Regions from separate parts of the Homo sapiens genome. Here all the other regions are linked to region 1. The links come from fine-mapping of genetic effects on gene expression. A gene starts in region 1. Each other region holds a variant in brackets. All regions are shown on one strand. Distances are between the middles of the regions. Region 1 holds the start of C13orf42 (chromosome 13 open reading frame 42). Region 2 has its middle 48 kb from the start of C13orf42. Region 3 has its middle 50 kb from the start of FAM124A.

Region 1 (2,811 bases):
GAGGACTGCTTGAGGTCAGGAGTTTGAGACCAGCCTGAGCAACAAAGCAAGACTCCCATCTCTACAAAAAAAAAAAATTTTAATTAGCCGCGTGTGGTGGCAGGTGCCTGTAGTCCCAGCTACTTGGGAAGCTGAGGTGGCAGGATCACTTGAGTCCAGGAGGTTGAGGTTGCAGTGAGCTATGATCATGCCACTGCACTCCAGCCTGAGCAACAGAGGAGACTCTGTCTCTAAATAAATACAAGTCTGAGGAAATAAAGGAAAGAGTAACTGAATGAATTGCCGGCTCATAATTAAAATTAGGTGACCTAGCACCTAGAGGTGGGTCACTGAGCCTCGGTTTTCCCTTCTGTGATACTGAAGGAGTTCCTCCCCACCTACTGTACTGGCTTTATTGTGACGCTCAAGAAAAGTTGGTATATACAAAACACTGCAATAAGCATAAACAAAGAGATAAATGCAAATTATTTCTTTCACTCATTTCATGCTTGTGACTGTCTGGAGACCTCCAGTGCCCAAAGCCATCCGGGAATCTCCCAAGAGACACAGACTCTCTCCGTGTCTATGCCTGAGCCACCACATGCCTGGTCTGAGGTACAGATGGAGGAATTTTCCAGTTGTTTGGCTTGCGTGGGGCTAAGCACCTCAATATTTGAAAACATCTAGTCATGTGATGATTTCACTTTTCACCAGGATTTTTAGATGTGACAACAATAATTTTTTAAAAACCAACAATTTGTTGAAAAATGATTTGCTGTCATCCAAATGCCATGCAAGCATTATCTCACCTATAACACTGGGAAGGAATTGATAGATGTGCAATGCAAATATGGTGCCGCCTGACACCAAAACCCATGTCTTCCCCACCGAGCTGCTCTGTGGACACCACTACCTGCTCCTTTTTGCTTCCTGGGTATTAAAAATAAACATGGATCAAGAAACTACCAATCAGGCACTATGCTTATTACCTGGGTGACAAAATAATCTGTACACCAAACCCTTGTGACACACAGTTTACCTATATAACAAACCTGCATGTGTACCCCTGAACCTAAAATAAAGTTAATAATAAATAAATGAGTAATAAACATGGGCTTAGCCACCCTTCCCCAGGCTGGGGATATGGCCGCATAAAGCATCTGAGGACTATTGCGCCGCGGCTCAGAATGTGTCAGATTAATTAAGCCATGCAGAGGTAGGAAGAAGCTTTCAAACAGTTGCCCAAGGCTCTCAGAAAAACCCTCATCTAAATTGTACTGCTCAGCAGCACTTACCTTTATTTCTTTGGGAGTAGACCGGACAGGAGTCTTTTTCCCTCCCTTGGAGGATTTGGAGGAGGTTGAGGAAATCCCCTGGGTGCGGTGGGGCTTCAGATCACTGAAGCTGCTGAGATATTTTTTGCGCAAGGCCAGCAGCTCCTGCAGGTACTGCAGGCAGTCCTGGGTGCGCGAATACATCCACGCCCGGTCCTCCTCCTGCCGCAGGTAGTACAGGCTGGTGTCCATGCTACTGGTGCTTTTGTACTTCTTTAAGGACTCGCTGAATTTCTCCCCGTGGTCCCCGACCACATACATGGAACTGCTTCGAATCAGCTTCACTGCGGGGCTGGCTCCTTCGTAGAAGGGGCTCTCGGCCGCCGTCTTTCTCTGTGGGCTGGAGTTAAAGATGGAGTGGATCTTTCTGAACATAGTGCTCGATTTCTTTCTGTGGGTACCTTCCAGCTGCCTGTGCTGCCGCCACTTGATCTAGATGCGGGGAGAGAAGCCGACATCCAGGCCTCGCACCATCTGCCTTCCAGGAGGCCTCTGATCTCTAGGATCCCAGGGAGCACCGGCTTGATCAGGTGGGTAACCTGCACATCTCCCATGGGGGATGTTTACATCCTATAACCAAGAGGCCATAAACAACCCGAAGATAGAAGGTGGCGCACTGTGAACTTAAAAATGAGTGCCCTGGCTGGCTTTATGAAGCATTGAGTGCAAATACCTTCAGTGCTCTCCCGTGGAAGGCCCCAGCTGGATGAAGAAAGTGGGACAGAGCTTTGCCTGCTCAGTTATTTTCTTTCCTTTTCACTTTCCATCGCTGGCCATGGTCTCACTCAGTTTGAGTTGATCTTGGTGTGAATTTTTACCTTTCCACCTGGGCTGAGCTGACTCCGGTTCTGAATTCTCTGAATCCAAAATGAAATTCTACTTAGCAGGGACAGCCCTTACCCAAAAATCATGTGTTGCTCAGGGTAAAATCTAGTCCCCCGAGATGGGCCAGGGTGGACACACCAGGGCGTTGACAGGAGCTCGCAGATCCCCCCGATAAGCTGGGCTCTGAGCAGGCATCTGAGCGTCCTGGAAGAGCCTCGCCCTGCGGTAATGGACCTCACAGCCGTTACCGGATAGCAGCCCATTGTGGAGGCAGGAGGAGGATTCAGATATCCGGACCACGACTTTTTGCACAGAAGCATCAGTGAGCTGAAGGGTGGCCACATTTGTGGGGCAGACACTTTCTTTAGCCCGAGCACATTTTTAACTTAGACTAGTTAACATCAGACATAAACTGTTTTTTCAAGAGGGCTGTAGGAATCTATTAGAATTCCAGAGATGTTCTCTGTAGCATTTTTCTCAGGCAGATGCTAAACATTGTTATTTTGTTCATTCTTCTATGCAGTCTATTTCTCTCCTAGACTACAGTCTGAGAGTACAAGCCTGCACCAGTCTCTAGGTCAGGCATTTTCTTAAGCTATGAGCTAAGAGAAAGTATGAGCCCCCAGAAATTGTATGTAAAGCATTACTGAATGAATGTATTAGCATGGTTTAT
Region 2 (2,811 bases), 49 kb after region 1:
AACCATCTTTGTCAGATTCCAGAACCTACAGTTCTCAGCCACTATGCTATGCATGGATGAGGGGTGGATGACATCCTGAACAGAACTCTGGCTTTGACAATGAACAGAGGCAGGTTCCTGGCTATGCCTCTCCCTGCTTCTCTTCAATCCTCAAGCAAGAAAAGAGCAGGGAGGGATAATTTCTACTTTGCTGGTTTGTTAAAATGTAAGTAATAATATTTTAAAAGCACCTCCCTCATCAAAGGCACTCAGCCAGTGGTGGCTTGTTAAAACTATTCACCATCACCCTCACTAGAGGTGAGCTGCCAGTAGCAATGATGGCTGCACATTGCAGCAAGGATCTTCCCAGCAGAAGTGACACCCACTGGCCATGGGGAGCCTGTACCTCTCTGTCTGTCACCTTGCACTTTGTAGGCCTTCCAGCAGGGTCTGTCTCTGGCCTGAAGGTCCCACGCAACACCACAGACAAGGCAGCAACTGAACACACAAGTCAACCGATGGATCTGAACGACTCGCAGTAACCCATCAATTCAGTGAAACAACTACTATTGATTTCTGGGGGTTTTCCACCCCACTGGTTGTTTAACTGAATTGATGGGTGTTCTGTGGAACTGATTGCACCAGCCAGTTCTTTTAGTGTGATAGAGGCAAAACGCTAGTATGTTTCCCAGAAAATGAATGAATCTGCTCGTTAAAGAGAATGTTCTGCCAAATAATTTTTTCCAATGACAGTGGTTTTCCTTCTCCGCTTCTTCTGCATAGGGATTGGGAAGCATTTAAGGGGCTTTCATTGCATGTCAATATGCTGATAAGCTGGCCCCTTTCAATTTCCTCACAGTTCTCAGGGACTGATTAGATGCCAGAATGAATCCACCAATCTCCCTCTCTCCACACGCAGACTTTTGCCAGTTCTGAGTCATTGTGTTTCATATGTTCCCCACCACCCCCACCAATCATGTGCATCAAAGCTGATTTTCCCCACTAAATGAAAATGCAGACTCTTAGGCAAGTCAACAGTATGCCAACTCTCAGGGCTGATGATTTACACACCTATGATTTATATTTTCTTCCCCGGAGGTTGCTTTTTGTGGATTTCAGACAGCACCACACTTGTTTTCAATGACAGTGATTAAAAAAACAGATGTCAGGATGAGGACTAGGGAACAGTGTGGGGGATAGAATGACAAGAAAATAAAGAGGCTGATCAAGAGCAGTCTGAAACCTTTCCTTGAGTCACTGAGCTTTTATGCTTCCCCCAGCCATGGGGAGAGACAGGCTTTTCCATTTCAGGAAAACATAGATTATAGAAAATATATAGATTAGAGTTGAATTTTCGTTGACTTTCAAAAAACAATCTCT[C/G]TCTTTGGGCTGTTGCCACTGTCATTGTTATTCCACTGCTGTGCTGAGATCTCAGGGTTATTGAAATTGGTGATGCAAGTAAAATTCTCACATACAATAAAAGAGAAATAGATCCGAAGGACATGGAGTCTCACTCGCCATAAAGCTCCATTAAGTCAGCTGACTCCGAATATGCAATGTATATTTTGCATTTTTATGCATTTTATACAGCATGAAGTGTCTCGTTTCTGGCAACTCATATGTAAGACAGTGTATTAGTTCATTTTGACGCTGCTGATAAAGACATACTGAAACTGGGAACAAAAAGAGGTTTAATTGGACTTACAGTTCCACATGGCTAGGGAAACTCTCACAATCATGGCGGAGGGTGAAAGATACTTCTTACGTGGCAGCAGCAAGAGAGAATGAGAGAAGGAGCAAAAGCAGAAACCCCTGATAAACCCATCAGATCTTGTGAGACTTACTCACTATCTCGAGAATAGCATGGGAAACACTGGCTCCCATGATTCAATTACCTCCCCCTGGGTCCCTCCCACAACACGTGGGACTTATGTGAGATACAATTCAAGTTGAGATTTGGGTGGGGACACAGCCAAACCATATCAGACAGTATTGACATTAAGGGTCACACAGTGTGGGGTGACACAATGCCAATGTTTAGAAATTTGATTTGTGGGACGAGAATGGTGGCTCACGCCTGGAATCCCAGCATTTTGGGAGGCCGAGGCAGGCAGATCACCTGAGGTCAGGAGTTTGAGACTTGGCAAACATGGTGAAACCCCATTTCTACTAAAAATACAAATAATTAGCTGCGCATGGTGGCGCAAGCCTGTAATCCCAGCTACTCGGGAGGCTGAGGCAGGAGAGTCAATGAACCTGGGAGACGGAGGTTGCAGTGAGCCGTGATTGCACCATTGCACTCCAGCTTGGGCAACAAGAGCAAAACTCCGTCTCAAAAATAAATAAATAAATAAATTTGATTTGCTTCTGCATATTGACATACTTTATGGTACACAAAAGATGAGCCAGGAAGCAAGCCTCCCTCATTGAAAACAAATGAGGAATTGTGAATTTGACTATAAGGCACTAGAAAGTAGACAATTTCTCAGTGGTACGAGAAGAGCATCCCTCAAAGTGGCAGGTATAAAATAAGTGGGAATACCTATAAATGATTAAAAACTCTTAGCAAACTAGAAATATAAAGGAAATTCCTTAACCTGATTTTTTAAATTATCTATTAAAATCCTACAGCAAATGCTATTTCTAATGGCAATCACTGAAAGTATTCTTTCTGAAATAAAAAACAGGGCAAGGAAACCTGTGACCAGCACCTCTAGCCAACATTGTATTGGAGATCCTGCCAGCATAGTAAGAAAAAGAAAGAAAACCTACAAAGATTGGAAACAAGAAAAAAAAAAAAAACAAAAAACTGCCAGTTGTCGCATTGTCCAA
Region 3 (2,676 bases), 61 kb after region 1:
CCTTAGTGGCAAGTCCCGCTTTCCTAGGGGGCAAGAAGCCCCCAGTTGCTTATTTCCACACCCCAACCTCTTATCTCTGTGCCCCAATCCCTTATTTCCGCACCCTGACCTCTTATCTCTGTGCCCCCATCCCTTATTTCCGTGCCCCAACCCCTTCTCTGCTTTTCTGGAGGGCAAGAACCCCCCAACCCTTCTCCGTGTCTCTTTTCTCTGGGCTTGCCTCCTTCACTATGGGTAAGCTTCCACCCTCCATTCCTCCTTCTCCTCCCTTAGCCTGTGTTCTCAAAAACTTAAAACCTCTTCAACTCACACCTGACCTAAAACCTAAATGACTTATTTTCTTCTGCAATGCCGTTTGACCCCAATACAAACTCGACAGTAGTTCCAAATAGCCAGAAAATGGCACTTTGAATTTTTCCATCCTGCAAAATCTAAATAATTCTTGTCGTAAAATAGGCAAACGGTCTGAGGTGCCTGACGTCCAGGCATTCTTTTACACATCAGTCCCTTCCTAGTCTCTGTGACCAGTGCAACTCGTCCCAAATCTTCCTTCTTTCCCTCCCGCCTGTCCCCTCAGTACCAACCCCAAGCGTCGCTGAGTCTTTCTAATCTTCCTTTTCTACAGACCCATCTGACCTCTCCCTTCCTCCCCAGGCTGCTCCTGGCCAGGCCGAGCTAGGTCCCAATTCTTCCTCAGCCTCTGCTCCTCCACCCTATAATCTTTTTATCACCTCCCCTCCTCACACCTGGTCGGGCTTACAGTTTCGTTCGGTGACTAGCCCTCCCCCACCTGCCCAGCAATTTACTCTTAAAAAGGTGGCTGGAGCTAAAGGCATAGTCAAGGTTAATGCTCCTTTTTCTTTACCCCAAATCAGATAGCGTTTAGGCTCTTTTTCATCAAATATAAAAATCCAGCCCAGTTCATGGCTTGTTTGGCAGCAACCCTGAGACGCTTTACAGCCCTAGACCCTAAAAGGTCAAAAGGCCGTCTTATGCTCAATATACATTTTATTACCCAATCTGCTCCCGATATTAAATAAAACTCCAAAAATTAAATTCTGGCCCTCAAACCCCACAACAGGATTTAATTAACCTCACCTTCAAGGTGTACCATAATAGAAAAAAGTTGCAATTCCTTGCCTCCACTGTGAGACAAACCCCAGCCACGTCTCCAGCACACAAGAACTTCCAAACGCCTGAACCGCAGCGGCCAGGCGTTCCTCCAGAACCTCCTCCCACAGGAGCTTGCTACACGTGCCAGAAATCTGGCCACTGGGCCAAGGAATGCCCGCAGCCTGGGATTCCTCCTAAGCCGCGTCCCATCTGTGTGGGACCCCACTGAAAATCGGACTGTTCAACTCACCTGGCAGCCACTCCCAGAGCCCCTGGAACTCTGGCCCA[A/C]GCCTCTCTGACTGACTCCTTCCCAGATCTTCTCGGCTTAGCGGCTGAAGACTGACACTGCCGGATCACCTCGGAAGCCCCCTAGACAGTCACTGACGCCGAGCTTCAGGTAACTCTCACAGTGGAAGGTAAGCCCGTCCCCTTCTTAATCAATACGGAGGCTACTCACTCCACATTACCCTCTTTTCAAGGGCCTGTTTCCCTTGCCTCCATAACTGTTGTGGGTATTGACGGCCAGGCAAACCTCTTAAAACTCCCCAACTCTGGTGCCAACTTAGACAATACTCTTTTAAGCACTCCTTTTTAGTCATCCCCACCTGCCCAGTTCCCTTATTAGGCCGAGACACTTTAACTAAATTATCTGCTTCCCTGACTATTCCTGGACTACAGCTATATCTCATTGCCGCCCTTCTTCCCAATTCAAAGCCTCCTTTGCGTCCTCCTCTTCTATCCCCCCACCTTAACCCACAAGTATAAGATACCTCTACTCCCTCCTTGGCGACCGATCATGCACCCCTTACCATCTCATTAAAACCTAATCACCCTTACCCCACTCAACGCCAATATCCCATCCCGCAGCACGCTTTAAAAAGATTAAAGCCTGTTATCACTCGCCTGCTACAGCATGGCCTTTTAAAGCCTATAAACTCTCCTTACAATTCCCCCATTTTACCTGTCCTAAAACCAGACAAGCCTTACAAGTTAGTTCAGGATCTGCACCTTATCAACCAAATTGTTTTGCCTATCCACCCCGTGGTGCCAAACCCGTATACTCTCCTGTCCTCAATACCTGCCTCTACAACCCATTATTCTGTTCTAGATCTCAAACATGCTTTCTTTACTATTCCTTTGCACCCTTAATCCCAGCCTCTCTTTGCTTTCACTTGGACTGACCCTGACACCCATCAAGCTCAGCAAATTACCTAGGCTGTACTGCCGCAAAGCTTCTCAGACAGCCCCCATTACTTCAATCAAGCCCAAATTTCTTCCTCATCTGTTACCTATCTCGGCATAATTCTCATAAAAACACACGTGCTCTCCCTGCCAATCGCGTCCGACTGATCTCTCAAACCCAAGCACCTTCTATAAAACAACAACTCCTTTCCTTCCTAGGCGTGGTTAGCGCGGTCAGAATTCTTACACAAGAGCCAGGACCACACCCTGTAGCCTTTCTGTCCAAACAACTTGACCTTACTGTTTTAGCCTAGCCCTCATGTCTGCGTGCAGCGGCTGCCGCTGCTTTAATACTTATAGAGGCCCTCAAAATAAGTAGAG

The links. PIP is the estimated chance that this variant, and not a neighbour inherited with it, causes the effect.
Region 2: its variant is fine-mapped to the expression of C13orf42 in testis (GTEx, PIP above 0.99).
Region 3: its variant is fine-mapped to the expression of C13orf42 in lung (TOPMed, PIP above 0.99). The same link has a PIP of 0.9 or more in subcutaneous fat.

The regions. Positions count from the first base shown.
Region 1 is chr13:51,109,522-51,112,332 of GRCh38, forward strand. It overlaps C13orf42 (chromosome 13 open reading frame 42), which reads right to left and starts at 1,753. Exons shown (of 4, transcript NM_001351589.3): 1 at 1,275-1,753. The coding sequence starts at 1,688. RefSeq lists an enhancer at 1,011-2,210.
Region 2 is chr13:51,158,197-51,161,007 of GRCh38, forward strand. It overlaps a transcript of C13orf42 not described here. Among named protein-coding and RNA genes, the nearest start is that of C13orf42, 48 kb to the left of the region's middle. The variant C/G (reference allele first, on the strand shown) is at 1,360.
Region 3 is chr13:51,170,890-51,173,565 of GRCh38, forward strand. It overlaps a transcript of C13orf42 not described here. Among named protein-coding and RNA genes, the nearest start is that of FAM124A, 50 kb to the right of the region's middle. RefSeq lists an enhancer at 1-175. The variant A/C (reference allele first, on the strand shown) is at 1,402.